2 separate regions of the Homo sapiens genome follow, and region 1 is linked to region 2. Evidence: fine-mapped expression QTL. A gene starts in region 2. The other region holds a variant in brackets. All regions are shown on one strand. Distances are from middle to middle. Region 1 has its middle 48 kb from the start of VSTM5. Region 2 holds the start of HEPHL1 (hephaestin like 1).

What was found. PIP is the estimated chance that this variant, and not a neighbour inherited with it, causes the effect.
Region 1: its variant is fine-mapped to the expression of HEPHL1 in prefrontal cortex (CommonMind, PIP 0.95).

Annotation. Positions count from the first base shown.
Region 1 is chr11:93,889,713-93,906,554 of GRCh38, reverse strand. It overlaps the pseudogene LOC101060084. Among named protein-coding and RNA genes, the nearest start is that of VSTM5, 48 kb to the right of the region's middle. The variant A/G (reference allele first, on the strand shown) is at 8,730.
Region 2 is chr11:94,014,700-94,031,541 of GRCh38, reverse strand. HEPHL1 (hephaestin like 1) reads right to left here and starts at 10,188. Exons shown (of 20, transcript NM_001098672.2): 1 at 10,004-10,188. The coding sequence starts at 10,173.

The DNA of each region.
Region 1 (16,842 bases), 120 kb after region 2:
AAAAATGTCTTCCTTCCAATGAGCCAAGATCTTTCTCTCTGCAGCCTCCTACTTTGACCCCTGGGTCTAATCCATCTTCCAGTTACCTTCAAATACTTAAAGACAGTGTTCCTGTCTTCCCCAAGTCTTCCCATGAGCTCTCAGCTCTGTGATTCCTTTCACCAGTTGAGCATCAGCTCCAACTCTCTCCAGTTTTGTCTATATCCCTCTCAAAGTATGGTATCCAGAACTGACCTCCATACTCCAAGGGATGTTCTGATCAAGAAAAAGAACAAAGCAATCCTCCCAATAATGAATTGGGATACAGATGTATCTGATGCCACCTGATATGTCTTTGTGGATACAGATGTGAAGTCCATTTCTGAGTGCACGCATATAAATAAACTCCAGATATTTACACAACACATTGCTGATTCCCACCATTCCTGAGCTCTTTTATGCTTTCTTCTTTCTTTCTTTTCTATTTTTTTGGAGATGAGGTCTTGCTCCAGCCCAGCCTGGAGTGCAGTAGCATGATCATAGCTCACTGCAGCCTCAAACTGCTGGGCTCAAGTGATCCTCCCCGCTCAGCCTCCCGAGTAGCTGGGACTATGAGCATGCACCACTACCTCCTGGCTAATTTTTATGCCTTCCATTTCTATTAGTGTCATGAACACTGAACAGTGGTTGGAAAATTCTGGAATCAGAGGGTTGGAGGGCCACCGCAGGAGCTGCCCCAGGTCTTCCCAACTTGAGTACTGGATTACTGGGTTGGGAGGTACATCTGCCCCACTTCACAATATATAGTCATGCCCTTGGACGGATGAGGCAGCAACAGGACGCATCCTCCCTGGGAAGCCTGTCTTGTGGTCAGGCAAGCTGGACATTTTCCAGCAGCTTTATAAAAGTGGATACAGCTTTCTTCAGGCCCTCTGTGGGGAAAGGGAGGGAAAATGTGTAGAGGACCTATTACATGCCAGGCATGATGGAATTTTACACATTCTCTCTTTTTATAAGGGACATGTGTTGTCCTCAGGGAGTACAGAGTGGTTGTGTAACCTGCCCAAGGCCACATAGATAAGAAGCAGGTGGGAATGAGCCTCCAGGAGGGCAGCCCAGGCTGACACGTCCCTCTGGCAGGCTCCACCTGGGAAGCCATGTGGGTCATCACTCATAATCAAAGCCTGCACTAAACACTGCACTCTGTGAGATGAGCTGGAGGGGTCTGAATGGGAACCACAAATCAGGTCCCTTTTCAGGAGCAGGGATCTGGGCTCTCAGGAACCTCAGGACCCAGTTGGGTCTTAGCTTTGCCCCAAAATGAGTCACTTTGGTTCTACCTTGGGAAATCAGTCCCGCACTGATACACAGATGTCTGGGTTTTCTCTGTGGTCTGGGAAAAGCAAGAGCTGGTGCTGGGGATAGTCAGTACATATTAATTAATGATGATGAACACTGTTCTCCCCTCCCTTCAAAACTGGTGAAATGCTTCGAATTAAACAGATTATTCATAATATATAAAAACTGCCACTTTTCAAGTCAGATCATTTTGGAAGAATGTCAAAAGAGAGGGGTAAGACAGAGATTAAAATCACTTTCAGGATGGCTGTACATTTTCAGGGCTTTAAAGGTTTACTGTGTGGCCAGCCTGGAGGCTGTAATGTCTCTTGTGTGATTGAGGAGCTGAGAGGTGATTAAAGGACTTAAGCCAAAAGGGCTGCCTCCCAGTGTGTTCGAAGAAGAAAAATACCATTAATCATAATAATGATGTGTGTTTATAGAAGGCCTTTCATCTGTGCCTCTCAAAGTGCTTTAACCACCATTAATTATACCTCCCAGTGCACCTCTGAGGTAGATAAAAATTATTATACCCATTTTACAAGTGAATAAAGGCCTACAGGGCGAGTAGGAGTGAATTATTTGGGGTCACACATAAACCAGTGGCAAAGGAAGCAATTCCTGTCCCGGGTCAGGACTGAGATTACCCTATTCTTGGGTGCCCTCCTCTCTGAAGGATCGGGCTTTGAGAGAGAACCAAAGATGCTTTTGTGATGCCACCTCTAAGGGCTAATGGAATTGATCACTCTTAGCCCAGGCTCTTAAAAACAGAAAGTGGCCTGTTGAGAGAGAGCATGAAGGCAGGATCTTCTCATTAATTGGGGCATTGCCCCTTAGGATTCATGTGGCCAGTGATCAACAGGACGTTTCGGACCCGTCTGCCCCAGCTGCCTGGGACGTATGACCCAGCTGCCTGGGTCTCTCCAAGGTGTTCATTTCAGGAGAGTCACTGACATGGTTCCCAAAGTCAGTCTGAGCAAACAGATTACCTGCACAGCAGCTCCTCCCTGTGATGAGCATGCACATCTCTCTGTGGCTCCCCCTTTGCTCTTGCCTTTTGTTCCTGTCACTCACACCACAGGAGCACCTAGCAGAGGCACTAAGCTTGTCTTGGAAGCTTCGGGAGAAGAGCATGAGTAGGTCAGGCTCTTCATGGGGAAAGAAAACATTGTATCTGAGGTAACAATAGGCAAAGGTCCAGCTTTCCAGAGGTGAGAGACAGCCTGGGTGGGAGGAACTCCACCGAGTCCTTTACAGTTGACACCAGTATGCATGAGGAGGAGTGAGTGGCAAGAGCCAAGATAAGGAATTTTATACAGGGGCATCGGTGGAGAGTGGTGAGCTGTGGAAATACGCAATTAAGTCTGTATTTTCAGAATAGGAAGCCCAGGAGGAGGTGCAGGTGCAGGGTGCAGCAGAGATGCTGATTCAGTTGGCACTGTTCACTTTGAGGTGCCTGCAGAGCACCCAGGTGTAGATGTGAAGATGTCCGCTGGACTTTGGGTACTGGAGCCCAGAAGTCAGAATCTGGAATACAGATGGAAATTTATAGCTGGGCGTGGTGGCGTGCACCTGTAGTCCCAGCTACTCAGCTGGACAGGAGAATCGCTTGAACCCAGGAGACAGAGGTTGCAGTGAGCTGAGATTGCCCCACTGCACTCCAGCCTGGGCAACAGAACAAGACTCTCTCTCTCTCTTATATTTATATAATATAAATATGTTCATATATATGTTTATATTATATAAAGTATAAATATATATTTATATTACATACAAATATTATATAAATATACATTAGCCCAAAGCAGAGAATTGTAATATATATTATAAAATGTATAATACTGTATATGTATATATAATAAATATATAAAATAAAAATATATTCTATATAAATATATATATAATAAATAAATAAATATATTTATTTTTGGTATGTATGTTGGACCATTTTCCTCTTCTGCTGGGAACCCTCCAAAGGCTTCCATTTCACTAGGAGTGAAAACCAGAGCCCCACTCGCCTCTAAGCCTGGCCCCTGCATTCTGACCTTCCCTCCCGCTCTTCCCCATATCAGCCTTTTTGCCAGTCTTACTCATGCAAGCTCTGCTCCCGCCTCAGGGCGTTCATCCTTCTGTTTCCTCTGCCTGCAAGTTCTTGCCCCAATAGACATTGGTTGCTCCCTGGCCTCTCCATGCCTATGCTCAGGCATCTCGCCTGGCACATGACCACCTATTTAAAACTTCAGCTTCCTCCTGCCTTTTCATGTACCCCAATCCCTTTGCCAGCCATGTTCTTCTCTCTCACCATGGTACTTCATGTATTTAGTCCCACATACCATTTCCTCATGTATTTTGTTTGCTGTCTTCCTCTACTCTCTACTGTCTCCTGAGCCACTCTCTGTCTCTCTCTATAGCTCTAGAATATAAGCTAGACATGAAGGCAGGGATTTTTACCAATCTTATTCACTGGTAAACAGTGAAAAATAGAACAGTGCCTAGTACACATAAGGTACTCAATAAATACTTGTCAAAAAAATCACTTAACTAAAATTGATCCAACAAAAAAAAGTACAAAGATTATTATTGGAAAAACTGGGAAATTCTAAACATGGATTATAGATTAGATAATACTACTGTTATTACACACACGCCAGTATTAAATGTCTTGAATGTGATGTAGATTATGCAGAATATCCCTGTCTGGGGGAGATACCAGCTATAGTACTTAAAGGGAAAGTGCCATGATATTTACAACTTGCATTCCAATGTTTTAGCAACAAATAAAAATATTTGGGAGTGGATAACACAAAATAATTGATGAATCCAGTGGAAGGGCATATAAATGTCCATTAAACTATTTTTTCAAATTATCTTTAATTTGAAATTCTTTTCTTCAATTGTGGTAAAACACATATAACATAAAACTATGCTTATCATTTCAGCCAGTTTTAAGTGTAAAGCCCTTACAGTTCAGTAGTGCTAAGTACATTCACCCTGCTGTGCCATCTCCAGACCTCTTTTCATCTGGCAAAACTGAAACTCTGTACCCATTAAATAACAACTCATTCCTTCATCTCCACAGCCCCTGGCAGCTGCCATTCTACTTTCTGCCTCTATGAATTTGACTACTCTAGGTATTTCACATAAGTGGAATCATACAGTATTTGTCTTTTTGTTTCTAGCCTAGTTCACTTAGCAAAATGCCCTCAAGTTTTATCCATGTTGTAGCATGTGTCACATTTCCTTCCTTTTTAAGGCTGAATAATACATTGTTGTCTTTCAATGCTTATTAATTCCATTGTGTGCGCATGTGTGTGTGCAAATGTGTGTGTGCTTCTGTGTGTATTTACATATATTTATATATACATACCACATTTTTGTTTATCCGTTCAATCATTGATGAACACTTGGATTGCTTCCACCCTTTGGCTATTGTGAATAATACTGCAATGAACAAAGATATACAAATATATCTTCAAGACCCTGCTTTCAATTTTTGGGGGGTGGTATATGTCCAGTGTGGAATTGTTGGATTATACAGTGGTTCTATTTTTAACTTTTTTTCTTTTTTTATTATACTTTAAGTCCTGGAATACATGTGCAGAATGTACAGGTTTGTTACATAGGTATACACATGACATGGTGGTTTGCTGCACCCGTCAACCCATCATCTACATTAGATCTTTCTCCTAATGTTATCCGTCCCCTAGCCCCCCATCCCCTGGCAGGCCCCAGTGTGTAATGTTCCCCTCCCTGTGTCCATGTGTCCTCATTGTTCAGCTCCCACCTATGAGTGAGAACATGCGGTGTTTGGTTTTCTGTTCCTGTGATAATTTCCTGAGAATGATGGTTTCCAGCTTCATCCATGTTCCTACAAAGGACATGAACTCATCCTTTTTTATGGCTGCATAGCATTCCATGGTGTATATGTGCCACATTTTCTTTATCCAGTCTATCATTGATGGGCATTTGGGTTGCTTCCAAGTCTTTGCTATTCTGAACGATGCTGCAATAAACATACGTGTGCATGTGTCTTTACAGTGGAATGATTTATAATAATGTGGGTATATACCCAGTAATGGGATTGCTGGTTTGAATGGTATTTCTGGTTCTAGATCCTTGAGAAATCGCCACACTGTCTTCCACAAAGGTTGAGCTAATTTACACTCCCACCAACGGTGTAAAAGCATTCCTATTTCTCCATATCCTCTCCAGCATCTGTTGTTTCCTGACTTTTTAATGATTGCCATTCTAACTGGCATGAGATGGTATCTCATTGTGGTTTTTATTTGCATTTCTCTGATGACTAGTGATGATGAGCTTTTTCCATATGTTTGTTGGCCATATAAATGTCTTCTTTTGAGAAGTGTCTGTTCATATCCTTTGCCCACTTTTTGATGGGGTTGTTTTTTTCTTGTAAATTTGCTTAAGTTCTTTGTAGATTCTGGATATTAGCCCTTTGTCAGATGGATATATTGCAAAAATTTTCTCCCATTCTGAAGGTTGCCTGTTCACTCTGATGCTAGTTTCTTTTGCTGTGCAGAAGCTCTTTAGTTTAATCAGATCCCATTTGTCTATTTTTGGCTTTTGTTGCCATTGCTTTTGGTGTTTTATTCATGAAGTCTTTGCCCATGCCTATGTCCTGAATGGTATTGCCTAGGTTTTCCTCTAGGGTTTTTATGGTTTTAGGTCTCTTGTTTAAGTCTTTAATCCATCTTGAGTTAATTTTTGTATAAGGTGTTAGGAAGGGGTCCAGTTTCAGTTTTCTGCATATGGCTAGCCAGTTTTCCCAACACTATTTATTAAATAGGGAATCCTTTCCCCATTGCTTGTTTTTGTCAGGTTTGTCAAAGATCAGATAGTTGTAGATGCGTGGTGTTATTTCTGAGGCCTCTGTTCTGTTCCATTGGTCTATATCTCTGTTTTGGTACCAGTACCATGCTGTTTTGGTTACTGTAGCCTTGCAGTATAGTTTGAAGTAAGGTAGCATGATGCCTCCAGCTTTGTTCTTTTTGCTTAGAATTGTCCTTGCTATATGGGCTCTTTTTTGGCTCCATATGAACTTTAAAGTAGTTTTTTTCTAATTCTGTGAAAAAAGTCAATGGTAGCTTGATGGGGATAGCATTGAATCTATAAATTACTTTGGGAAGTATGGCCATTTTCATGATATTGATTCTTCCTATCCATGAGCATGGAATGTTTTACAATTTGTTTGTGTCCTCTCTTATTTCCTTGAGCAGTGGTTTGTAATTCTCTTTGAAGAGGTCCTTCACATCCCTTGTAAGTTGGATTCCCAGGTATTTTATTCTCTATGTAACAATTGTGAATGGGAGTTCACTCATGATTTGGCTCTCTGTTTGTCTATTATTAGTGTATAGGAATGCTTGTGATTTTTGCACATCGATTTTGTATTCTGAGACTTTGCTGAAGTTGCTTATGAGTTTAAGGAGATTTTGGGCTGAGACAGTGGGGTTTTCTAAATACACAATCATGTCATCTGCAAGCAGAGACAATTTGACTTTCTCTGTTCCTATTTGAATACCCTTTATTTCTTTCTCTTGCCTGATTGCCCTGGCCAGAACTTCCAATACAATGTTGAATAGGAGTGGTGAGAGAGGGCATCCTTGTCTTGTGGCGATTTTCAAAGGGAATGCTTCCAGCTTTTGCCCATTCAGTATGATATTGGCTGTGGGTTTGTCATAAATAGCTCTTTTTATTTCCAGATATGTTCCATCGATACCTAGTTTATTGAGAGTTTTTAGCATGAAGGGGTGTTGAATTTTATCGAAGGCCTTTTCTGCATCTATTGAGATAATCATGTGGTTTTTCTCATTAGTTCTGTTTGTGTGATGGATTACGATTATTGATTTGTGTATGCTGAACCAGCCTTGCATCCCAGGGATAAAGCCAACTTGATCATGGGGCATAAGCTTTTTGATGTGCTGCTGGATTCAGTTTGCCAATATTTTATTGAGGATTTCCACATTGATGTTCATCAGGGATATTGGCCTGAAATTTTTGTTGTTGTTGTTGTGTCTCTGCCAGATTTTGGTATCAGGATGATGCTGGCCTCATAAAATGAGTTAGGAAGGAGTCTCTCTTTTTCCATTGTTTGGAATGGTTTCAGAAGGAATGGTACCAGCTCTTGTTTGTAACTCTGGTAGAATTTGACTGTGAATCCATCTGATCCTGGGCTTTTTTTTTTTTTTTTTTTTTGGTTGGTAGGCTATTAATTACTGCCTCAATTTCAGAACTTGTTACTGGTCTATTCAGGGATTTGACTTCTTCCTGGTTTAGTTTTGGGAGGGTATATGTGTCCAGGAATTTATCCATGTCTTCTAGATTTTCTAGTTTATTTGCAGAGAGGTGTTTATAGTATTCTCTGATAAAACAGACTTTAAACCAACAAAGATCAAAAAAGACAAAGAAGGGTAATACATAATGATAAAGGGATCAATGCAACAAGAAGAGCTAACTATCCTAAATATATATGCACCCAATACAGGAACACTCATATTCATGAAGCAAGTTCTTAAAGAACCACAAAGAGACTTACACTCCCACACAATAATAGTGGGAGACTTTAACACCCCACTGTCCATATTAGACAGATCAATGAGACAGAAAATTAACAAGGATATTCAGGACTTGAACTCAGCTCTGGACCAAGCGAACTAATAGACATATACATAAGTCTCCACTCCAAATCAACAGAATATACATTCTTCTCAGTACCACATCGCACTTATTCTAAAATCGACCACATAATTGGAAGTAAAACACTCCTCAGTAAATGCAAAAGAACAGAAATCATAACAAACAGTCTCTCAGACCACAGTGCAATCAAATTAGAACTCAGGATTAAGAAACTCACTCAAAATTGCACAACTACATGGAAACTGAACAACCTGCTCCTGAATGACTACTGGGTAAATAATGAAATTAAGGCACAAATAAATAAGTTATTTGAAACCAATGAGAACAAAGGCACAATGTACCAGAATCCCTGGGACACAGCTAAAGCAGTGTGTAGAGGGAAATGTATAGCACTAAATGCCCATCGGAGAAAGCAGGAAAGATCTAAAATCAACACCTTAACATCACAACTAGAAGAACTAGAGAAGCAAGAGCAAACAAATTCAAAAGCTAGCAGAAGACAAGAAATAACTAAGATCAGAGCAGAACTGAAGGAGATAGAGACAAGAAAACCCCTTCAAATAAATCAATGAATGCAGGAGGTGGTTTTTTGTAAAGATTAACAAAATAGACCGCTAGCAAGACTAATAAAGAAAGAATCAAATAGACACAATAAAAAACTATAAAGGGAATATCACCACTGATCCCAGAGAAATACAAACTACCAGCAGCTGCTATTTGAATCTGATGGTAGGGATAGAAGAGGTGAGAGGAGCTCC[A/G]TGTCCCTTCCCTGAGACACTATTTCCCTTTTGATATAGGCTGAAACCTTGAGTCAGAAGAGTAAGGGGCTAATGGTGGAATTTCAGATATGAGTGAGTGACAGGTGACTGAAGAGCTATGAAACAGATTTTTTTTTTTTTTCACATGAAGTTTCACTCTTGTCACCCAGACTGAAGTGCAGTGGCATGATCTCAGCTCGCTGCAACTTCCACCTCCCGGGCTCAAGCGATTCTCCTGCCTCGGCCTCCCAGGTAGCTGGGATTACAGGCACCTGCCACTACACCCGGCTAATTTTTCTGTTTTAGTAGGGATGGGGTTTCACCATGTTGGCCAGGCTGGTCTCGAACTCCTGACCTCAAATGATCCACCTGCCTGGCCTCCCAAAGTGCTGGGATTACAGGTGTGAGCCACCACGTCCAGCCAGCAGATTCTTATTCTTCCAGCTCAGGACCTTCATCCAGGCCTCACCTTCCCAGTGTCTGCTCAGAAACTCCTCACACCTCAAGTTCCCTCCGTTTTGACCCACTTAGCTTTCATCTTAACCTGATTTTCATATAATAGAACCTAGGACTTAATAACCCTGGGCATGGACCTGTCCCAGAAACCCACCAGGTCCTGCCTCCTCTTGTTCCCAGAATCCTCTCCATGTCCTTCTGTGGGTACTGCATGTCCACAACCCTGACCCACCCAGGTATGCTCTGATCCCCCCACACAGGCCATGGGGGGCGCTGACACACAGACACAGGGACAGCATAACATGAGAAATCAGAACTGCCAGCCTGTTGGTGAGCCCTCCTGCCACTGTGCCCTGCAAAGCTCTTCTTTAGGGATCAAGCAGGGCCCCTTCCCATCAGGTACAGGTGATTTATCAGAGGGATTGCCTCCCCAGGTGTGTTTAGTCTGAATCCTTACTCTGAGCCTGAGATACTATTAACTGGCTTGTGAGGAAGAATGGCTTTTGAGGAAGAAATATCAGTTATAGGAACTAAGAAGCTGTGTTGGCCGGGCGCGGTGGCTCATGCTTGTAATCCCAGCAACTGGGAGGCTGAGACAGGCAGACCATTTGAGGTCAGCAGTTTGAGACCAGCCTGGCCAAAATGGCAAAACCCCATCTCTACTAAAAATCCAAAAAAAAATTTAGTTGGGCATGGTGATGTGTGCCTATAATCCTAGCTACTCAGGAGGCTGAGGCAAGAGAATCCCTTGAACCCTGGAGGCAGAAGTTGCAGTAAGCCGAGATTGCGCCACTGCACTCCAGCCTAGGTGACAGAGCGGGACTCCATCTCAAAAACAACAACAACAACAAAAGCTGCATTATCTCAGTACAACTTAGCACAGCATGAGAACATTGACCCCACTTCATCCAGTAGGTTGGTTATTCAATTAACAGCTGTCTCTCCTAGTAGACCTTGTTAGTTGTACTCACTGTTGTATTCCCAGAACCTATCACATAGCAGTGATTAATAAATGTTTGAAGAATGGGTGAATAAATGAACAAATAAATGGAAGACCAGACAGGGGTAGGATTCATGTTGACTACAATCTAAGATACCTCTTCCAGGATCACGGGGAGGGAAACAGAGGACAAATGGGAGTATGGAGTGGTCCAAAGGTGCACTTAGAAAGCTGAGGGAGACTCCACAAGGCGCTTTCCACTTGAAACGTGAATTGGGGCTCAGAGAGTAGAGAGTCACCTCCTGAAACAGCGGGGTGGGATGAGCAAAGAGGGAGGAGGGAGGATTGAGAAGTGAAGGTTTAAAACAACTACTGCAGGTAATGGGACTAGATGCCAACTGGACTCATGGAGAAATTGCTGAGCAGCAGGGTGGCTCTGAAGTTTTAACTCTAATGCTGGGGCCGGCAGACACCATCAACCAAGAAAGGGAATGGAGGAGGAGGAAACTTAATTCAGGGAAGAGTTTATGGGGGTCAGGCTTCCAGATAGAGCTAGCTGTCTCAGTTCAACCAGAATTTATCAATTCTTGTATGGAGTACAAAGTAAAATAGGAGAGCTCTGCCCTAGAGGAGCTAGAAAATGCTCCTCAAATCTGAGGGAATCATAAATGCCTAAGTAAAACCACAGAGGATCTCATACTATGGCTCAACTGTGAATGAAAAGAATGCCAAAACCAAAGGTTTTTCTCATCTCCCTCCCCCTTCTCCTTCTTGCTCCTGTTTTAAACCAAAACGCACAGATTTCAGCTCCTTGGCAGGTGAACAGCATTCTTTTTCACCAAGTGTGAACTACACTAGGCAGTCTTGGAGCACCCCCTGTTGAGTCTTCAAGGTATTAAATAGTTAGCTCTTGGAAGATAAGCTTCTAGATTGTATACGTAGCAGAAAAATGCACTCATTCAGCAAACACTTTTTGCCAAAACATTGTAACAGGCACCATGACTATAAATATATGCCCTCAAGTTTCTTCTGGTCTAATAAGAAAAAAAAATATCACTGTTCATTAGGACTGGCACTCATTTCTAAACAGAAAGCCTGTATCGAAAGCAAATTTAGTGGGAACTGAGATCTGTTGACTGAATTATGGTTCCCCTAAAAAGACAAGTGAGTATAGTATCCTGTTAGGTAGAAAATAGAAAAAATCTAGTCCCTGTAGACTGTTTTTCTTCTAGGTCTACTCTCTAGCTCCCCAAATATTAATCTGATCCGGCACTACAAAACACTGCACGAAGCACTACAAAAACCCACACCTTCAAAGGTGCCAGGTGGTGAGGCAAATGTGGGTCAGGTAAAGAGAACAGACTGAAGTCAATAGTTCTGAACTGGAGCTAAATAAAGCCATGCAAACTTGAGCAAGTCTTTTTTTTTTTTTTACTGTAAATCAACAAATTACAGTTGTTTATATTCATGGAGTACAAAGTGATGTTTTGATATATGTATACAGTGTGGAATAATTAAATTAAGCTAATTAATATATCTATGACCTCAAATACTTACCATGTTTTGTGATGAGAACATTTGAAATTCACTCTCATAACAAGTTTGAAATATGGAATACATTATTACTAATGATAGTCACAACACTGTGCCATGGATATCCAAACACTTATTCCTTCTGTCTAACTAAACTTTTGTACTCTTTGACTAACATCTCCCCATTCCCTACCCCCAAGTTGCTGGTAATCCCCATTCTACTCTCTGCTTCTATGTGTTTGATTGTTTTAGATTCCACATATAAGTAAGATCCGCAGTATTTGTCCTTCTGTGCCTTAGTTCACTTAGCATAATGTCCTCCAGGTCCATCCATGTTGTCTCAAATAGCAGAATTTTCTTCTTTTTCAAGGCAGGCACAATAGTATTTCATTGTGTATATATGCCAAATTTTCTTTATGTGTTTATCCATTGACAGAATGAGCAAGCCTTTTTAGCTCCCTGAAACTGTTTCCTCACTAGTAAGATGGAAATTAAAATGTCTATTTTCAAGATAGTTATAAGGATTAAATAAGATACTAATGTAGGAAACTTTGCTTTTTTTCTGCCCATATGATATACAGGAAAGGGAAACACTTTTTAAACTGCTGATCATGCTATTGAAATGAAATATGGAAAAGAAATTTAAAAAATAAAGTGCTGATCAAGTTTTGGTTATTGCTGTTATTAGTCCATAGAAGGGTACCCTCCATCAAGGAAAAACATGCCTCTGTCTTGCTGGTGAGCCATCACTGACCCAGGTAAATGAGAGGAAGGTGAGGTAAATGCAGAGGTTTTATCAAAGAGTCTTTTTCATTTCACGAATAATCAAAGTTACACAGAAAAATTTTATGTATCTGTGGCAAACAGACTCTACCTTTTTAGCATCTTCAAAAAAAATATGAAGTACCTAGGAATAAGTATGACAAAATTGTGCAGATCTTAATGGTGAAAGTTGTAAAACATATTGAGAGATATTAAAGACAGCTTACTTAAATTAAGAGATATACTATGTTCATAAATTGGAAGACTCAGTATTGTAAACATGCCAATTCTCCCAAATCATTTATAAAATCAATGCAATTCGAGTCAAAATGCTAATCAGTTTTTAGTGGCATTTGAAAAGATGATCCCCAAATTTATGTGAAGATGCAAAGGACAAAGAATAGCCAAGATGCACCAGAAGAAGAAGAAAAAGAAGGAGGAGGAAGAAAAAGAAGAAAAATGTAGGACTGGCACTGTCAAATGTCAAGACTTGATATAAAGTTACAATATTTTAAACAGAATGGATTGGTACATAGATCAACAGACCAATACAATAGAGTCCAGAAAGAGAACTTTGCATTATATGAACACTTGATACATAATAGAGGCAGCACTGCAGGGCAATGGGAAAGAACGGTTTTTAAATAAGTGCTGCTGGGACAATTTGCTATCCATATGGGTTAAACAGAAATCAATTCCAGGTATCCAGTACTTAACAGAAAAGGCAAAACTAGGCCAGGCTCAGTGGCTCATGCCTATAATCCCAGCACTTTGGGAGGCCAAGGCAGATGGATCATTTGAGGTCAGGAGTTCGAGACCAGCCCGGACAACATGGTGAAACCTGTCCCTACTAAAAATACAAAAATTAGCTGGGCATAGTGGCATGCACTTGTAGTTTCAGCTACTTGGGAGGCTGAGGCAGGAGAATCATTTGAACCCAGGAGGCACAGGTTGCAGTGAGCCAAGATAGCACCACTGCACTCCAGCATGGGCAGCAAAGCAAGACTCTGTCAAAAAAAAAAAAAAAAAAAATGAATGAAAGAAAAGGAAAGAAAAGAAAAGAACTATAAAGCCTTCAGAAGATAAAATGGGAGAATATTTTCATGAGCTTGGAGAAGATAGTTTTCTTAAACAGTTACCAAATGGCTGGGCGCGGTGGCTCACCCCTGTAATCCTAGCTCTTTGGGAGGCTGAGGTGGATGGATCACAAGTTCAAGAACAGCCTGGGCAAGATGGTGAAACCCCATCTCTATTAAAAATACAAAAAAATTAGCTGGGCATGGTGGTGGCGCCTGTAATCCCAGCTACTTGGGAGGCTGAGGAAGAGAATTGCTTGAACCTGGGAGGTGGAGGTTGCAGTGAGCTGACATCACGCCACTGCACTCTACCCTGAGTGACAGAGCGAGACTATGTCTCAAAACAAACAAAAAAAATTACCAAATGAACTAACTGTTCAAGAAAATATCAATAAATTTTTACTACATTAAAATTAAGAAGTTCTGCTCATCAAGTCTTCACCATTAAGAGAGTGAAAAGGCAAACTTATATTCACAATACTTATAACTGATTAAAAATTCATATCCAAAATATATAAGGAACTTCTTCAAATCAGTAAGAAAAATGGACATACCAATAGAAAAATAGGAAAGATATTAGAACTGAACCAGTACTTTACAAAAAAAAAAAAGGAAGAAAGAAATATAAATGTCCCACAACCTTTCTTGGTTGCAGGGAAATGCTAAATTAGAACCACGATGATATAACAGTATATAAAAACCAAACATTTGGCCAGGCACGGTGGCTTACATCTGTAATCCCAGCACTTTGGGAGGCCAAGGCGGGCAGATCACTTGAGGTCAGGAGTTCAAGACCAGTCTGGCCAACATGGCGAAACCCTCTCTCTACTAAAAATACAAAAATTAGCCAGGCATGTTGAAGTGCACCTGTAATCCCAGCTACTCAGGAGGCTAAAACAGGAGACTCACTTGAACCCGGGAGGCAAAGGTTGCAGTGGTAGTGAGCCGAGATCATGCCACTGTATTCCAGCCTGGGTGACAGAGCAAGACTCCAACTCAAAAAAAAAGCAAACATTTTTAAAGTTGATAATATTAAGTGTTAGTGAGGATATAGAGCAACTGAAACTCTCACACACTGCTGTTGGGAGTATGATTTATGATTTGTACAACTGCTTTGGAAAACTGTTTGGGGTTGTCTACTAAATTTGAATATGCATATATTAAGTGATCTAGAATTTTTATTTCTAAGTATATACCCTACAAAATACAGGTACATGTGTGCTAGAAAACATGTACAAAAATGTTCAGACCTCCAGCCTGAAGTAGCTTTTGTTAGAAAAAAGAATGTTCACAGCAACATTTCTCAGTACTCAAAAAACTGCAGACCACTCAAATTCCCATCAAGAAGGCAGCAAATAAGTAAATTATGGTGTATTCATATACAGCCAGGGTTGAAAAACTTTTCTTATGAAGGGCCAGATAATAGGATATAGGATTTCGGGTCATATGTAGTCTGCCTCATATTTTGGCCTTTTTTAGGGGGCAGCAGTGGAGAGTTGTTTGTTTTAAAATTTTATAATTGTAAAAAACATTCTTAGTTCACAGGCCATACAAAAACAGCCCACTGGCTGGATTTGGCCCATGGGCCATAGTTTAGCCACTCCTGATATAAAGAGAGTCTACCTATATAGCATCAAAAATGAATGAACTATAGCTACTTAAAACCCTATAGAAGAATCTTACAAACGTAATACTGAGCTAAAGAAGCAAGATATAAACATACACAAATACATAAAAAATCACATATGCAAAAACATCATAAGCAAAAATCACAAAAATATAATTCCATTGATATAAAACAAGTGCAGTGAAACTATGGAGCTTAGGAATGCATAAATAGACCTTAAAACCACAAAGAAAAGCAAGAAAATAGTTACCATACAAATCACAATTATGAATACTTCTGGGTCAGGGAAGGGATTGGAATCTGAAGGGGACCTCTGGGGCACTGGAGACATTCTATTTCTTGACCTGGACAATGGCAATATAGGTATTTGTTTCATAATTATGTAACTTATACATTTGTGTTTATTGTTTATCAAATTGTATGTCTATATTTTATGCATTTTTCTGTGTGTGTCATGTTTAAATGTGTCATCAATTGAATTTACAAAGACAGTGGTACAGATGCAGCCTCGTTGTCTGGGATAACACCCAAGGTTCTTTGTCCCACAGCTATGGAGATCAAGGATGTGGACACACAAAGGGTGAGGTTAAAGCAGAAGTTTAATAGGTGAAAGGAAAAGAATAGCTCTCTGCTTCGGAGAAGGGCCCCAAATGGGTTGCTGTACTGCAGTAAAATGTAAGGGTTTTTATAAGTGAGCTAGTAGGGAGAGGGTACTTTATCTCATAGGGCATGAAAAACCAGTTAGGACCAGGTGCGCCATCTGCATGGAGTGAAACCTCTGGCAGCCCCACCCCACTCTTTTATCATGCAGGCTGGTTCTTACCTTGGACTATTCCATGTTGCTTATCTCCTTCCCACCATGCATGTGCTAAAAAGGGGAGGGGGAGTTTCCATGCCTGGTCCTAGGTACCTCCTTGCAGCTGTAGGCATCTGCCCCACCATGCAAGCTTCCAGCTTCCCTATCTTAGTGTGCTCAAAAAGGGAAAGGAATGTGCTCATTAAGGCCCACTGTTTTTACTGGGATCAATCATATGTATGTGAAGTTTGGTGATTACCCTGGAAGCTCTCCCTTTATGCCAGAGTTGTTTATCTATGTTTTACAGCCCGATCTTCCAGGCTGGTCTTTATTAGAAGAGAAGTGATTTCTTTGAACTGCGAGTGGTTAGAAAGGAAGTAATTTCTCAAGCTGCTTTTTGTTAGAAGAAAAGTTTTGCCGGGGACTCTTTTGCCCTATCTACCCAAATAATTTCCTTCTATCTCCTGTATCAGTACAAAAAAAGAGTTAAAAAGAAAACCATAGGGCAGATAACATAATGCTAAAATAACATGAGAGAGGGTCTGAATGAGAGAGGGTGATACCCCAAGAATGGTGGGAGGCTGGTAATGTTCAAATGTAAGGACAGCAAAGGCAGAGGGGCCGTTGAAACTAGGAAGGGAAGCCTGATTAGAAGCAGCAGCATTCAGTGGAAAGAGGGCTGCCCAGTTCTCATCCCTTTGGGGGTTGGGGCTGCAGAGTTGCTCCCACAGGTTCCACTGGGCACAGACACTGGAGGGGCTGGAAGGGCTGTCCACAGAGGAAGAACAGGTCAGGATGGAACACGTACAAAAGGTGGGAGGTAATAATCAGTTTGTAGCTTCTCTGATGCCTCACCCCTCAGGCACCCTTTCACAGGCACAGGAAAGCAGACAAGGGAGCTGTATACACAGGTGAGAGAAGAA
Region 2 (16,842 bases):
AAAGACCAAAATGTTCTTCAACTGGCAGCTGGGTAAATAAATGATGGCATTCATGCCACATACCCATAAGAAAAGAATAAGGTGGTCTACAGGTGCTGATATGGCGTGATCACCAAGATACTAATAAAAAAAAAGCAAATTGCAGAGCCGTATGTAAAGTATTATCCCATTTGTGTGTGTGTGTGTGTGTGTGTGTGTGTGTGTGTGTGTAACAATGCACATTTACCCATATGCAAAGAATACATCTGGAAAGTGACCAGGGAAACAAAGTGTAGCCTCCAGACTATGAGACTGAAGCCACAGGTGGGAGGGAGGACGGAGGAGAAGTTTACTTTCACTCATCCTCTTTTATACTGTTGTAGGGGGAGGGGCGGTTACTCTGTACCTACAAATTCAATACTAAAAACAAGCTCACGTTTTATTGAAAAAAAAAGAAGACCCATGCTGTTTGGCCTCCAAGGGGCCAAAATTCTCTTGCATGCCTTCTATTTCTAAAAACAAAGCTGCCACAACAAAGGGTGTTGTTGGATTGAGTTCTGCTCTGCAAGGGGATTGGCCTCTGGAGCAGAGAGCATGGCATCTGCTCACTATCCCTGCTCAACCTCTGGCTTGCCAACTCTCCTCTCAGGCATTGAGGCTGAAGTCTTGGGACTGTGTATGAACATTCTGGGTCTCTTGTATCCAAGCATCCACTAAGCCTGCATGTGTCTACCCAGGAGCAAGAGTTAGCCCTCTCCCACTCTATAAGGCAAAGACTTACATTTCCCTGTGCAAGAGAATGGGATATAAAAGTTGGGATGCCTGACCCCTGGACCTTTATAATAGAGGCTGTTACATTTCTCAGACTTGCTTGCAACTTGGAATAGTCATGTGACATAATTCTAGCCAATCAGATGTAAGCAGAAGTCACTCAATGATACTTCTCCAGGTGTAGCTGGAAGACACCATTTTTCTCCTCTTCTCTTCCCTTTATTCATGCCTGAAATGTAGACATGATGACTGGAGCTCCAGCAGCCATCTTGAGATAACGAGGAAGAGGGTCACACCCTAGGAATGGTCAAGTGAGAGCCAAAAGGAACCTGGGACCCAGATGATTGCCAACCTCTGGCTCTCTTTTATGTAAGCAATAATAATAAATCTTTAATCGATTTAAACCACTTCTGTTTTTCAGGATTCTGTTAAAGAGTAGCTGAATACAACTCCTGATTGAACAGGCTGTGCAAAAGGAGAAGGAAGAGGAAGAGGCAGAGGAAGAACTGAGTCATCCCCAAGCTTGCTAATAAGCCTCAGAGTTGCCCAGTTTTATAGCTGACAATGGGTCACCCAGTAAGGTGGCACAGCAAGGATTAGATTCAGAATCCCTGGTATGCTCTCTGGGTTCAGCCTGATGGGTAAAAACTATAATACAAAACTATTATTCATAGGACCTTATCATTCCAACAGGCCCTATAGGGAAGGATGGACATTGGACTCTACTTCTCTACCCTGTTCTCCCACTGCACACATGAAGACACAAAAGTATACACACATGCAGATGCATGTGGAGCACACATGCTCACATCTTCACATATGTACTCCTGCTTTTAATCTGCTAAGAGGTCCTGACCCCACCTCTGCCCAAGACCTTTCTCCATCACCTCCACAAGACCAGGTCTTACCATGAGTTGTCTGGCAAAGGCACTAAATAAGAGGCAAAATAAGTATCAGGAGGGGCAGTGAAGTGTTTGCTGAGTCCCTGTAGGGACTGGAGCACTTATGGTATGCTTCATATTTTGGCACTGAGTTATACATTGACTGTTTTTCATATTCCTGGACACATATCAGTCTTATCACCTATACAGCCAATAGTCACCCCAAGGGGGGATTGGGTTTTCTAAAGCAGTGGTTCCCAAATGTCCACCCATGTACCACTTGCATCAGAATCATTTGGAACATTTGCCAAATTTTTATTCTCAGGCCCCACTTCAGGGCAATGGAATCAGACTTTCTACTGGCAAGACCATGGTATCTGTATTTTTTCCTAAGATCACCAAATGATTCCTGTAGTAGAGCTTTTTAGGGCTTGCGTATTCTAATTTTTCTTTCCTCCTAACCAAAGAAGACCACAGTGATTCTGCTTTTGCAAGTTAGATGGGCCATAGTGTTCTGGCAAATTGGCTGTGAGTGGAAATGCCACGTGTCACTTCTGGGTGGGGGCATTTAATTATTATTGCAAGACCCTCTCTTCCTCTGCTGCAGGAGGAGCCTCCTGCTCAGACAGTGAAGAGAACCCATAGCTTCCTCCTTGTCCCAGGACTTCTTCCCCTGCACTGACTCCACATCAAGAGTAGGACAGGGTTGACCCATGAAGGTGCCCTAGGAAGATACTTCACACAAAACAAAAACTATAGTAACTATTTGATAAAAATTTGTTGAGGCTGGGTGTGGTGGCTCATGCCTAATCCCAGCATTTTGGGAGGCCAAGGTGGGAGGATCACTTGAGGCTAGGAGTTTAAGACTAGCCTGGGCAATACAGTGAGATCCTATACTTTTTTAACTAATAGGAAAAAAAGCTTGAAAGTAAAAAAAGAAGTGGGAAGGGATAGAAATAAGAGAAAGTAGTTTGTTTTAGTGTCTACACAGCAAACCACCCATTGAGAACATATTATGCATTTGTAATAGTAGAACAGAAACTCCAGCTCCTTTGAGTTCTATAAAATGCAAATTTGCCCAAGAAACAAAGTAAGGAAGTAACTTCAAGGGAGCCATCCCCATGAAGCAACCTCCAATTTAAATGGAGTATATTTGTTAGAATGTTGCATTGGTGAGCCATCTGTTGTTTATCACGTAGCCATGGCGAGGGGCTGAGCAATCACTATTCCTCAAGAACATTTTCAATCTGCATTCTAACATCTTGACTCAAGCTAAGGAGGTGTCTACTTCCTGCTGCAAAAGAATCCAGTGGGGCCAGGAAGGTTAACATTAACAACTGCCTTAAAGACAAGATGGGGACTTGGAACATTACATTGCCAGTGCCTGGGGCCAATCCTGTGGATGGAGATATCTTCCAAAAGCAGAGGAGATTAATCATTATCAGAACAAACCTGCCCTTGGGAATCCCCTACACAGTACAGAGTTGGACTTCCAGGTTAGATTCTCAGGAGTTCGTAGCTTGCAGGGATATAAACCACCCAGCAATCCCATGACCTCTGCATCTTTTAGAGGGATGTTTTCTGATAGCTTCCTTGGAGCAATTGCTGATCATCTACTATGTCTGGGACATAAAACTAGAAACTGGGGCCAAGATGTATTAATCTCAGTCCCTGCATGCAAGAGTTTTACCATCTAGTTGGGAAGCAAAACATGCATTTGACAGTAAACACAGTTTTACAATGTTAACTGCCAACTCTACTGTCCAGAGCCCACATGTCTGTGTAGAGGGCAGGGAAATATAAGATGAAGATAAACTGCAAAATAATGTTAGCAGAGAGTGTGGTCAGATCCAACATGTGAGATCATAAGAGTCACAATAAGGACAAGAAATATTGTTTGAGCTTGAGAAGGAACGTTCTTCACCAAGGAGAAAAAAAGATGAGATTGAGACAAATGTCACTTGGAAAAAGGAAGGGTGGAGACGGAGATTGCACATTCAGTTTGGTGAAGCTGCACCCTCCCTATTAGATTAATAATTTTTAATACCATCTGGATGTGCTTCTATATACATTCTTTCACTCTGGGTCCCTGGCACCACCTATGTCTTGGGTCCTTCCTTTTCACTCTTCATTTCCACAGAAGCCCTTCATATACAAGGTGTGTTCAAAACAAATGGCATGATGAGGGGGAATGAAAATGAGCTTGAATCCCAACTCTCTCACTTGCTGGTTGTGAAATGGGGAAGAGACTTAACCTCTCTGAACCAGTTTCCTCTGCTGTAAAGCAGTGACCATGGTAGAGCTATCATAAGGATTCAATGAGAAGAGGTGTAGAGCCACACACACAGCAACTGGGAGAGTGGTGCTGAATCAATGACAGTTATGATTATTTCTGGTAAAGCGTAAAGCTTTGTTAGAAAAGAGGAAAATGTGACCAGCCAAGGTCTTTCCCCCAGGGCTCCTGCTCTCCAAAGAACCCCGTGAGACGGCAGAGCTACCACGAGAGCTGATCAAGTGCTCTCAAGTGGCAGGCACTGTGTCTGAGTATGTGCAGATCCTAAGTCCCAAAGATAACTCCGCAGTCCTCATCCACAGAAACTTATTGGAAAAATGGGTCTTTGCAGATGTGATTAAGTTAAGGATCTTGAGATGGGGAGATCATCCTGGATTAGCTGGGTGGGCCCTAAACACCATCAAAAGCATCCTTATAAGTAAGAGGCAAAGATAGGCTAGACACACAGAGAGAAGACGACGATATGAAAATGGAGGCAGAGATCAGAGTGATGCAGCCACAGCCAAGGAATGCTGGCAGATACCAGAACCTGGAAGAGTCAAGGAATGGCCCCTCCCTTAGAACCTCCAGAGGCATTGTGGCCCTGACAACACATGCAGTTCAGACATCTGGCCTCCAAAACTGGGGGAGAATAAATTGCTGTTGTTTGAAGCCACCTAGTTTGTAACTTGTTACAGCAGCCACAGAAAACTGATACACCCTCAAAGCAAGTACTGTCACTATCCCTATTTTACTGATGAGAAAACTGAGGCAAAGAGAGATTGAATTACTTGCCCATAAAGTGGGGCAAGAATTCTAAATGTGACAGTTGATGCCAGAGCCCCATACTTTACCAGCAAACTGGACTGCCTTGGCATCTCCCTAAGACCAAGGCTGGGCTACACTTGGCTGGAGAAATCCTCCCGATGCCACCTGATCTCCCTCCCAGAGACAGAAGATTGGTCACCCCACTTCATGGTGTGCTAACCTTTTAAAGCAATGCCTGGAGCATAGTAAATACTCAGTGACACTTAGCTAACTTATTATACTGTCAATGAGTTATCTTTCAGATCCTGCTAACCAGGCCTTGGGGGTCCATCATATGGAGGTGGGAAAAGCAAGATGGGGACTAAGAGGATGCCTGTGAATCATGGAAAACAGGAGAGAACTGAGGTAGGGGAGGGGAGCAGGGACTGCCAGCTGCCTTGCAATATTCATGCTCCCCTTCTTTCTTAGTGTCAGAGGTAAATTCTATCTTTATTCAGGCAGAAAAGTACACAGCTGAAACGTTATATTTTTTCAAGTCCTCTTTGTGGCTATGAGTATCCAATGAGATTTAAGTAAAATTGGTTGGGTAGGGTTTCAATGAGAACCCTTTGAAAGGCTGATGCAGCAAAAATTGTTCTGCTTCTACCTTTTGCCTTTCTCTCTTTCTTCCTGGAATGTAGACACGATGGCTGGAGATCCAACAGCAATCTTGTGACCATGAATGTGCTTGAGGAGGGAAACCACAAAGGGTTTAAAGCACATAGGCTAAGGATGGTGGATCAGAAATACAGAAAGCCCCTGATATCTTGTTATACCATCTATCCCACCAGCCTTGGACTGCCCACTTCTGGATTCTTCTACAAATGAATACAAAATCCTAATTTGTTAAAGACATTATACTCCAGTCTCTAGTGGCAGCCAGAAACAATCACTTACTGATATAGGGTAGAACAGCAGTTCCCAGAGATTCATATGGCATCAGTCCAAACAAAATATTTTTGGTGCTGATAAGACAGAAGTTGAGATTTGAAAGTTACCATTTGTTTAGACCATGCACTTACCAGATGATATTCTTTTCTTTATTTCAAAGCTCACAAAAACCTCTGTCTCCTCCCTGCTTCCCCTCAGTTGGTCCTTCTTTCAGATAGATGTGTGAGTTCTCTCTCACACCTATCCTAGGGCCTGCTTCTTAGAATACTCAAAGCCCCTTGCCATACACTGGGCTGATGCAGTGATGTGGCTGGGTCAACTAACAGACTCTACAAAAATGGGGTTTGAGCAGTGGCTAGCCTCACTTATGTTCAAGCGCAGTTCCACCCATGAGTTAGCGTCCATGAAAACCCTGCATTTCACTGGGAAGAAAAAGGCTGAATGTGTGTTGATGGCCTAATGAGGTCTATGGTGAGAACTGTGGCTTTAAATAAGATGACCCCACCCTACTTCCATTAAGGATCAGGCTTTACCACCAAACACACACCTTAATTAAGGACTTTATGAGCCTGAGCAGGACTGGTATAAATAGATCAAAATACTGACACCATCCCCAGGCAACTCAAAGGAGCCCAGTGTCCCCATTTACTCCAAGGAGGAGGAGAAGTATATTTATCTGGAGAAAGTATTTCTAAATAGAATCTAACTCCTAAATCCTATACTTTCTAGGAAACATTAGTGATTATAGACTCAATTATATTTTTGAACCCTATAATCAAGCATAGGTACCAAGCATAAAAGTTAATTTGCACCATCTGAGGGCTATAGAGTCTCAGCAAAATGATTTCAATTCATTTTCGATCTCGTCCTTGTGCATAAGGATGTGCCTAACTTTGGTTTCCAAATGTTTTCACATTACTGAAACTTTGGCACCCACCATCTTGTTCCCCAGATTTTTGCCCATTCCCCTTATTCAAAGATAAAACAACCAGAACAACTCAGTTGATAAGGTGATTAGCTTTTACTTCAATGATTTTGAATGCCTGCCCTGTACTGGATCCTCCATAGGATATTGTCAATGACAAAGTTCCGTGCAGGGAAGGGGGATTATTGAATATACGCCAAAACTTCTTATCTATCATCAGGGTGTTTTACTGCAGTTGCAGACATGACTAATGTACATCAAGCAATTAGAGGGCAATGCAGAGGGAAGAAAATGCAGTGTCCAAGTTCATGATAAAGACCCCAAGCTCCATGAGTGGTTAGGAAGGAAACAGATCAGTACAAGCCAGGGTCATGGGGGAAAGCTTCATGTATGAAGTGAGGAATTGGAGATAATTCTTAAAGGACAGGGGAAAAAATGGAGAAAGAAAAATAAAGACTACTTCAAAAGTTGTCACATATGCCCACGATCAGTCCCAGGTCTTCTCCAACTCTAATTTCTAGGACTGAACATTTGCAAATCATCTCTCTCCTTTCTTTCACCATTGCAAAAATCTTTCTAGAACTGGCAAGTCAGGAAAGATATTTTTCATTCAGTTTCAAAATTATTTCTAATGCTTTGGCATTACACTTCTCAAGTGACTCTAGGGATTACATTTCAACTCCCTTCTTACACAAATTAAGGAAAGTGATATTCAGAGAGATTATATGACATGTTCAAGATTACACAGCAAGTTGGGCAGAGCAAGCATTAGAAGTTAGGTCTCTGGATTTCTATTTCAGGTTCTTTCCATTCATGGTGGAATTCTGAGCACCTGGCTCTCCTGGTCCTTTAAATATCAGACATTTGCCCAAGTGTGAATATCCAAAACAACAGACTGTCCTCAGAAAGGCAGCCTATTCACCCTCCAGGAGGCTGAGAGAGGGGCATGATTACATCATCCACGATGGCTCCTTCCTGCTCCTGGGGAAATGGCACAACACAGAGTACACACACTGAACTCCACTTATGTCCCAGTCACAGCATCTTCACATACACCCAGGATGGATATCTTGTGGTCCACAAGCAATGTCAGCCACCTACGACAGCCCTACCTTTTTAGGAACTTGTCTGAGCCACCTACCACAACTACTAGCACTGATGGGATCACTGATAAAAACCAGTATTCTGATGGGATCACTGATAAAAGCCAACGTCCACTGCATACTCACCTGGATTTCCCTTCCAAGAGGTAGCAGTCTGTCTGACACAAACTCTGTCCCTTCGCATACCAGAAAGAAATGTTTGGGGACCTTGGCGTTCTAGGTATGACACCTTAGCATGCCAGCTGCTTCTAAGAACAAACGCACTATCATATGGGACCATGCATTTTGAAACCATCTCACTCAAATCTGATGCCAAACCAACTGTTTTCATCATGCCTATTTTCTTTTTCACCATAGCAATTTTTATATGTTTTATTGTACTTTCATCAAAGCACCATCTTCTGGTTGAAATGATCAACAGAGACCCCAACTTCTTCCAGCACCCCACTTTGTGAAAACAGCATTGTAGTACTTGAGTATTTATGATTCTTTGAGGTTTTGAATTAACCCAGATAACTTGTTTGGTCACTGACCACCAGTGATCCCTTTCAATATGCTTCTAGGAAGAGTGACAAAAGAGACTAAACATGCCTTTGGCAAAAATTAGGACTTTCTAGAAAGTTCTTATTACTGTGATCCTTGGCTTCCCTCAAAGTTGTTTTAATTCACTGGAGAAGGATCACCTTTACCAAGAAACAGATTGTGTGGTGAAAAGAAATATGGGCTGTGGAACCAAAGCAATGAGTTTGGTGCTACCACTTACTTATAAACTCCGGCAAGTATTTAACCTCAGAGCCTTGGTTCCTGGTTCATAAAATGAGAATAATAATATCTGCAAGCAGTAATGAATTGAAAAATCCCTCATAGAATTTTTGGGTCAGAATAAATGCCCATACACAGCTATAGTGACGTGGGCATTTTAGGAAGAAGAATTTCTGTGGGTGTTAATCTTATGGAAAGGCAATCCAGTATCACATTTAGCTTAAACGCTATATTCATTACACTCAGTGTACACACTTTCAACATTCTTATCCCCAGTAGCTGCTCACATTGACTGTTTCCTACTGAGCCCTCTCTGAGAATAGCAGAGCTCTATTTGTAGAGAAGGCTCCTGGCATTTTTGGTACCCTTTCAATCCCATAGCTATTCATCACAGTAAAGACACTACCACCAATGGTCAGCAGATGTGGGATTGAAAGCAATCAAGAGTTTCCTTTGGAAATAGCCCTGCAGACATTACATTTCCAGGTACAAAGCTTAAGGAAAAGTCTGCCTTGGCAGCTTGTCTGGCACAGGCTTCATCTTTGGTAAACAAAACATGACTATACCACCTTTGTTTTGTTAGAAAACTTGGAAGCTGTATTTCCAAGCCAACTGGATCTTTGGTCTTTCCTCAAAGACAAGGGGCCCTGGCTCTTAAAGACTTGCTGGTAGGCCCTGTGCTGTTCCTGAATTTTATCAACTAAACTCATCTTTAGGAAATGGAACATGGATGCAGAATGCAACTGGTTCTGCCTGTCAGAAAAGAAGCAAGCATTCAAATATCCAACAGAGGTTGCCAAAACATCTGAAAAGATGTTCTAATAACCACAAAGTTGAAAATAGCATGACATCTTCTGGAGTCAGGAGGTGACTTCAGAGGGAGATCCATGAAACAAATTAGATGGTTAAGATACTAGGCCCTGGAGGGGGCAGGGAGAAAGGGTTATTTTCTGCCCCAAATTAAAAATCAGGAACATAGAACACCGTGGCGCCATCTCACCTAGCTATGCTATAGGTTCTGGGATAAGATATTGCCCTCAGCAAGAATGACTTGGAGCTGGAATAAACTTTTTACCAGTGAAAGCGCTAATTCTAAGTAGACTCAAGGAAACCCTGAAAATAGCAGGCAAATCTCCTGTGACTTCCCCCTCTTTTAAACGTTGAAAAACATGACTTAGCATACTTATCTCCCATTATGATGTTTCATTCCAGAAATACAAACTAAGAAAACACTGTGTTTTAACCATAAGGAATTCTTGAAATTTCTCAAATCTTCATCCCAAGTGTTGTCATTTAAAAACAAACAAACAAACAGAATCCCCCAGAAGTTACTAGTAGTACCTGGTGGAAATTGTCAAACACCTGGTTGTGTATATGTCCCTTCACAGGCAAGGCTATTAATAGGTGGCTCAACAAATACATGGAGCTATGAATATCTCTTCCAGATTACACACCCATCCATACTAGGGCTCTTCAAGCAAAAAACAAAACACCTTCTCTTGGTCTAGATCAACTCACCCCCATTGTAAGTACCCAAGAAATACAACCTTCCCCACACAAAGTCAAAAAGAGGCCAAACCTGGGAGTCAATGAGGACCCTAAGTTCACTCACTTGTCTTCTGTGAAACTTTTCCCAGTAATAACATTCTTCCCTTGGGGTACATAGTTCCAGTATTCTTCCACAATCCCAATGTAGTACGTTCTGGTAACTGTGCCAACCAGCCCAGACAGACCCAGGAATGTGAGGAGAAAGATGCAGCCAGCTGGCTGCTTCCGAGGCATTTGTGGATGTAACTCAAGCAGGCAGGCAGCCTGCACAGGGGACAAATCTGTTGGTCCCTCCCCCTCACTCAGCTCCTCCTCCTCAGGTAGCTTGGGTTTGGGGAAGAGGCAAAGGCTGAGGCCTTGCGTAAGCAAAGCAAGCTCGATGGGGGCGTTGCTTTGACAACAAAACTTTTGCCAGCCATCCGAGAAATGTGTGACTGGCTCATTTATGTATTGCCCAAGCCAACAGGCCTGTTTCTATACGTTTCGGTACCATGCTCTGACATCAGTCATTTGTCAGCCAGGATGACAGTGTGACTACTTGAGCCGATGGCTTTCCCCCACCCCTTCTTCTTCTTTTCTTCTCCACACCTCTTACATTAAAATCTGAAAAGTGAGCTGGCCTGAGTGGAGCATCAGGAAACACTCCAGGCACTAAAGAAGGCCTCCTCTCTGTCGGGAGGGCAGAGGAAGTGACATAATCACCATCCAGCTTGTTTTATGAGGCTATGTGAAACCACAAACTAACATCATAAAGTTCATCACAACAACATAAAACCCCACTAATCCTCCACTGGCTCGTGTACCATCTCCCCCATATTCTCTCAAATCCTTCCAGCAAAAATGAGAAGGTTGACTGCTCAGTTCAGCCAAAATGTTCGCGGCCACCACCTCCACACAGGGAGCCGCCTTTCTTAGGATGAATGAAAATGATGATGGGGAAGTACCCTTCAGACACATGGAGACAAAATTCAGTAACAGGTCTTTGGGTGGAAAAGGCTGGGCCATTCTTCTGTGTCTTCTAATCTGTGTCCCAGAATCTCGGTATTGAAAGAGACCTTGATCAACCTTGGAAAAGAGTTACTCTTATCCCCATGCACAGTTACTCTTGAGGGAGCAGCCATGGAATGAAGGAAACAGCCTCCTGGCCTTTGAAGTTGGTCAGACCTGGGTTTGAATGTGAGTTCCCACCACTTTCCAATTTAGTGGCATGGAGGAATCACTTAACATCATTGAGCTGGAGACTATAGAAGAAGGATTGAGGGATTCTTAAGGAACTTTTTAAAAGATGATGTCTGCAAAGTGCTTACCCCAGCCCCTAGCATAGGGTAGGTACTAAGTAAGTGTTAAAGTCCTTCCTGCCCATTCATGCCCTCTAAGAGAGACTGTATCAACCTGTGTATCCACAGACTTGTGTTTCCCCGCAGTCTTCAACTTTCTTTCCACTATTCTTTGCCAAAGTCCTATCTGCCATGCCTTCCACCAGTCTCAAGTAAGAGAATTCTTTTTCTTTAAATGGTAGCTACCCTATAAATGTCCCATAGCACAGTTTGTATTAGCATTCATCTTAATTAATAAAAGGCCAGGCACGGTGGCTCAGGTCTGTAATCCCAGCAATTTGGGAGGCCAAGGCAGTCAGATCACCTGTGGTCACGAGTTTGAGACCAGCCTGGCCAACATGGTGAAACCCTGTCTGTACTAAAAATACAAAAATTAGCCGGGCGTAGTGGCAGGCGCCTGTAATCCCAGTTACTTGGGAGGCTTAGGCAGAAGAATCGCTTGAACCTGGGAGGTGGAGGTTGCAGTGAGCCAAGATTGTGCCACTGCACTCCAGCCTGGGCAACAAGAGCAAGATTCCTTCTCAAAATAAGTAAATAAATAAATAAATAAATAATAAAATACATACTGAGTATCCTGTTTCATAGCCAGGCTCTTTACAACTTTGATTTACTGATTTGTTTGTTGTATCAAGGACACTGGTAGAATAATTGCCACAGCACATTTCCATTTAGCTAAAATCTCCTCTTCAACATGAGTTTGGGAGCTTCGTATGAGTCTGGCACTTCAACGGACACTATAGAGGAGGACTTACGTGGTAGGCCTGAGGTTGGCCTCAGAAGAAGTAGGGAGTTCAAAGTATGGGGAATCTGGCCAGGCGCAGTGGCTAATGCCTATAATCTCAGCACTTTGGGAGGCCGAGGTGGGTGGATCACCTGAGGTCAGGAGTTCGAGACCAGCCTGCCGAATATGGTGAAACCCTGTCTCTACTAAAAATACAAAAATAACCCGGGCATGTTGGTGCATGCCTGTAGTCCCAGCTACTAGGGAGGCTGGGGCAGGAGAATCTCTTGAACCCTGGAGGCAAAGGTTGCAGTGAGCCAAGATCTCACAACTGCACTCTAGCCTGGATGATAGAGCGAGACTCTGTCTCACAAAAAAAAAAAAAAAAAAAAAAAAAAAAAAAAAAAAGGTTGTGGAATTTGGAAATGTCCCAAACCAAATATCTTGTTGCTTACATCCCAGAGAAGCTGGCTATTTTGGGCGTATCAAAGACGTTATTAGGACATATTCCCCCCTTTTTGGACAGGAGAAAAAAAAAGGTATAAGTGATACAGCTCAAAAAGACAAAAGAGTTAACTTTCTTACCCAAGATACTGAACGCATATAATTAAAACCCAGGAGAAGGCATTACCTAACTTCTGATTCAAAAACTAGATCTGCAGAATAGATCAGGTCAAGAAATCTGAGTCACTATAGCAGATGAAGTCAACGCATTTAATCTATTTGTAGCAGAGAACTTGCTTACAGAGGGCCAAAAGTGGGAAAGAATTTATTAAAAACAATGAAATAGGGTTCTGGAAAGCTCTCTTAAATTCTTCCTTATCCTAGGACAATAAAGGTGTTACTCAAAGAGCATTGGAATGCCATAGGAGCTAAAGAAAATAAACTGGTATGAGACAATGCAGTGTTCCTGTGACACTCATTTCAGAAAAGCGACAGTTCCACGCCCAATGTGTTTGACAGTGTCTAAATTTTATTAGGAAACCTGTGAATTATCATATCAACACTCATTTTTAAAAACCCACAGTTACATACAAGATATGTTTGACAATGTTTAAAATTTGATTAAGTAACCTGTGTAAGTAATAATGTTAGCAAATACTTCCAACTCCATTGAACACTAGTCAGACATTTTTTTAAAGTCAAGAAACCCATTTATCAAGCATTTATTATGTGAGATGGCCAGTTCTAAATATTCACTCCATTCCTCAAAACATTCACCAGGTTTCAGATAAGGTAAATTTGACATCATGCATCAATAGCAGAGAAAGATAATGCTGGGTTAAATCACATTTTATTGAAATTATGGTACAGGCACACCTTGAAGATATTGCAGGTGTGGTTCCAGACCACCATGATAAAGTGAATATCAAAATAAAGCGAATCACATGGATTTTTTGGTTTTCCAGTGCGTATAAAACTTATGCTTAGGCCATGTACAGTGGCTCACACCTGTAATCCCAGCACTTTGGGAGGCCAAGGTGAGAGGATCACTTGAGGCCAGAAGTTTGAGACCAGCCTGGGCAACATGGCAAAACTTGTCACCATAAAAAATACAAAAAAATTAGCCAAGCATGGTGGGGTGCACCTATAGTCCCCGCTACTCAGGAGGCTGAGGTGGGGGGATCATTTGAGCCCAAGAGGTCGAGGCTGTAGTATGTTAAGATCATGCCACTGCACTCCAGCCTCACTGACAGAAGGAGACCCTATCTAAAAAAAAAAAAAAGTTATGTTTACACAATATTACAGTCTATAAGTGTGTGTGCAATTGCATTATGTCTAAAAAATGTACACACCTTAATTTAAAAATACCTTATTGTTTAAAAATGCTAACAATCACCTGAGTCTTCAGTGAGTCAGTCTTTTTGCTGTGGAGGGTCTTGCCTCAATGTGGATGGCTGCTGACTAATCAGGATGGTGGTCACTGAAGGTTGAGGTGGCTGTGGCAACTTCTTAAAATAAGAACAATAGTTTGACACATCATTTGGTTTCCTTTCATGAAAGATTACTCTATAACCCATGATGCTGTTTAATAGTATTTTACCAATAAAAGAACTTCTTTCAAAATTGGAATAAATTTTCCCAACCCTGCTCCTGCTTTATCAACTAAGTTTATGTAATATGCTGAATCCTTTGTTGTCATTTCTACAATATTCACAGCATCTTCACCAGTAAATTCCATTTCAAGAAACCACTTGCTTTGTTCATCCATAAGAAGCAACACCTTATTCATGTAAATTTTATTATGAGATTGCAACAATTCAGTCACATCTTCAGGCTCCACTTCTAATTGTAGTTCACTTGCTGCTTCCACCACATCTGCAGTTACTTCCTCCATTGAAGTCTTGAACCTCTCAAAGTCATCCATGAGGGTTTGAATCAGCTTCTTCCAAACTCCTGTCAATGTTGATATTTTGACCTTCTCTCATGAATCACAAATATTCTTAACAGCATTTAGAATGGTGAATTATTTCCAGAAGGTTTTCAATTTACTTTGCCCAGATTCATCAGAGGAATCACTATCTATGGCACCTATAGCCTCAAGAAAGGTATTTCTCAAGTAATAAGATTGAAATTCAGTTACTCCTTGATCTATGACATACGGAATGGATGTTGTGTTAGCAGACATGAAAACAACATTCATTTCATTATACATTTCCGTCAGAGCTCTTGGGTCACTAGGTGCGTTGTTAATGAGCAGTAATATTTTGAAAGAATTTTTTTTTCTTAGCAGTAAGTCTCAGCCCTGGACTTAAAATATTCAGTAAACCATGCTGCAAACAGATGTACTGTTGTCCAGACATTATTATTCCATCTAGGGAGTATAGACAGAGTAGACTGTGCATAATTCTTAAGGGTCCTGGGACATTTGGAATGGTAAATGAGCACTGGCTTCAACTTAAAGTCACCAGCTGCATTAGCATCTGCTAGGATAGTTAGCCTATCCTTGGGCCAGGCACAATGGCTCATGCCTGTAATCCCAGCACCTTGGGAGGCTGAGGTGGGAGGATCACTTGAGTGCAGGAGTTTGAGACCAGCCTGGGCAAGACGGCAAGACCCCATCTTGTAAAAACAAACAAAAACAAGAGTGAGCCTATCCTTTGAAGCTTTAAAGCCAGGCATCGACTTGTCCTCTTCTACTATAAGGATGTTTGGTCTACATTGAAAATTTATTGGCCTAGTGTGGTGGCTCATGCCTATAATCTCAGCACTTTCGGAAGCCAAGGTAGGCAGATCACTTGAAGTCAGGAGTTTGAGACCAGCCTGGCCAACACAGTGAAACCCATCTCTACCAAAAAATACAAAAATTCGCCAAGCGTGGTGGCACATGCCTATAATCTCAGCTACTCCAGAGGCTGAGCTGGGAGAATCACTTGAACCCAGGAGGCTGAGATTGCAGTAAGCTGAGATCCTGCCACTGCACCCAGCCTGGGAGGCAGAGTGAGACCCTGTCTCAAAGAAAGAAAAAAAAAAAAGAAAAGAAAAGAAAGAAAAAAAAATGTATTGTTTAGTGTAGTCACCTTCATCAGTTATCTTAGCTAGACCTTTCAGAAAACTTACTGCCGCTTCTCCATCAGCACTCACTGCCTCATCTTCACTTCTGTGTTATGGAGATGGCTTCTTTCCTTAACCCTCATGAATCAACCTCTGCTAGCTTCAGACTTTTCTTCTACTACTTCTTCATCTCTCTCAGTCTTCAAAGAATTGAAAAGAGTTAGGGCCTCACTCTGAATTGGGCTTTGGCTTAAAGGAATGTTGTGGCTGATTTGGTCTTCTACCCAGATAGCTAAAACTTTCTCCATATCATCAATAAGGCTATTTCACTTTCTTAGCATCCGTGTGTTCACTGAAGTAGCACTTTTAATTTCCTTCAAGAACATTTCTTGCATTTGCAACTTTGCTAACTGTTGGGCACAAGAGGCCTAGCTTTCAGCCTGTCTCAACTTTCACCATGACTTTCTCACGATGTTTAATCATTTCTAGCTTTTGATTTAAAATAAGAGATGTGTGACTCTTTCTCTTGAACAGGTAGAGGGCTTTGTAGAGTTATTAAATTGGCCTAATTTCGACATTGTTGTGTCTCTGGGAATAGAGACGCCCAAGGAGAGAAAGTGATGGGAGAATGGCAGTCAGTGGAGTGCCAAGACCAGCTCGGTCGTGGAGATGCTAACTCAGTGGTGCTAGAGGAATTAAAGGCACACACACAGAAATATAGAGTGTGGAGTGGGAAATCAGGGGTCTCATAACTTTCAGAGCTGAGAGCCTTGAACAGAGATTTACCCACATATTTATTGATAGCAAGCCAGTGATAAGCATTGTTTCTATAGATTATAGGTTAACTAAAAGTATTCCTTATGGGAAATAGAGGGATGGGCCAAAGTAAAGGGATGGGTCTGGCTAGTTATCTGCAGCAGGAGCATGTCCTTAAGGCACAGATCACTCATGCTATTATTTGTGGTTTAAGAATGCCTTTAAGCAGCTTTCTGCCCTGGGTGGGCCAGGTGTTCCTTGCCCTCATTCTGGTAAACCCACAACCTTCCAGCATGGGCATCATGGCCATCACGAACATGTCACAGTGCTGCAAAGATTTTATTTATGGGCAGTTTTGGGGCCAGTTTATGGCCAGATTTGGGGGCCTGTTCCCAATAGTGGAGCAGTCATCACACACGCATTTATCAATTAAGTTTGCTGTTGTATATGAGCATGGCTTGTGGTGCCCCCAAACAATTACAGTGGTAACATCGAAGATTACTGATCACAGATCACCATAACAGATATAATAGTAATGAAAAGTTTAAAATATTATGAGAATTACCAAAATGTGACACAGAGATATGAAGTAAG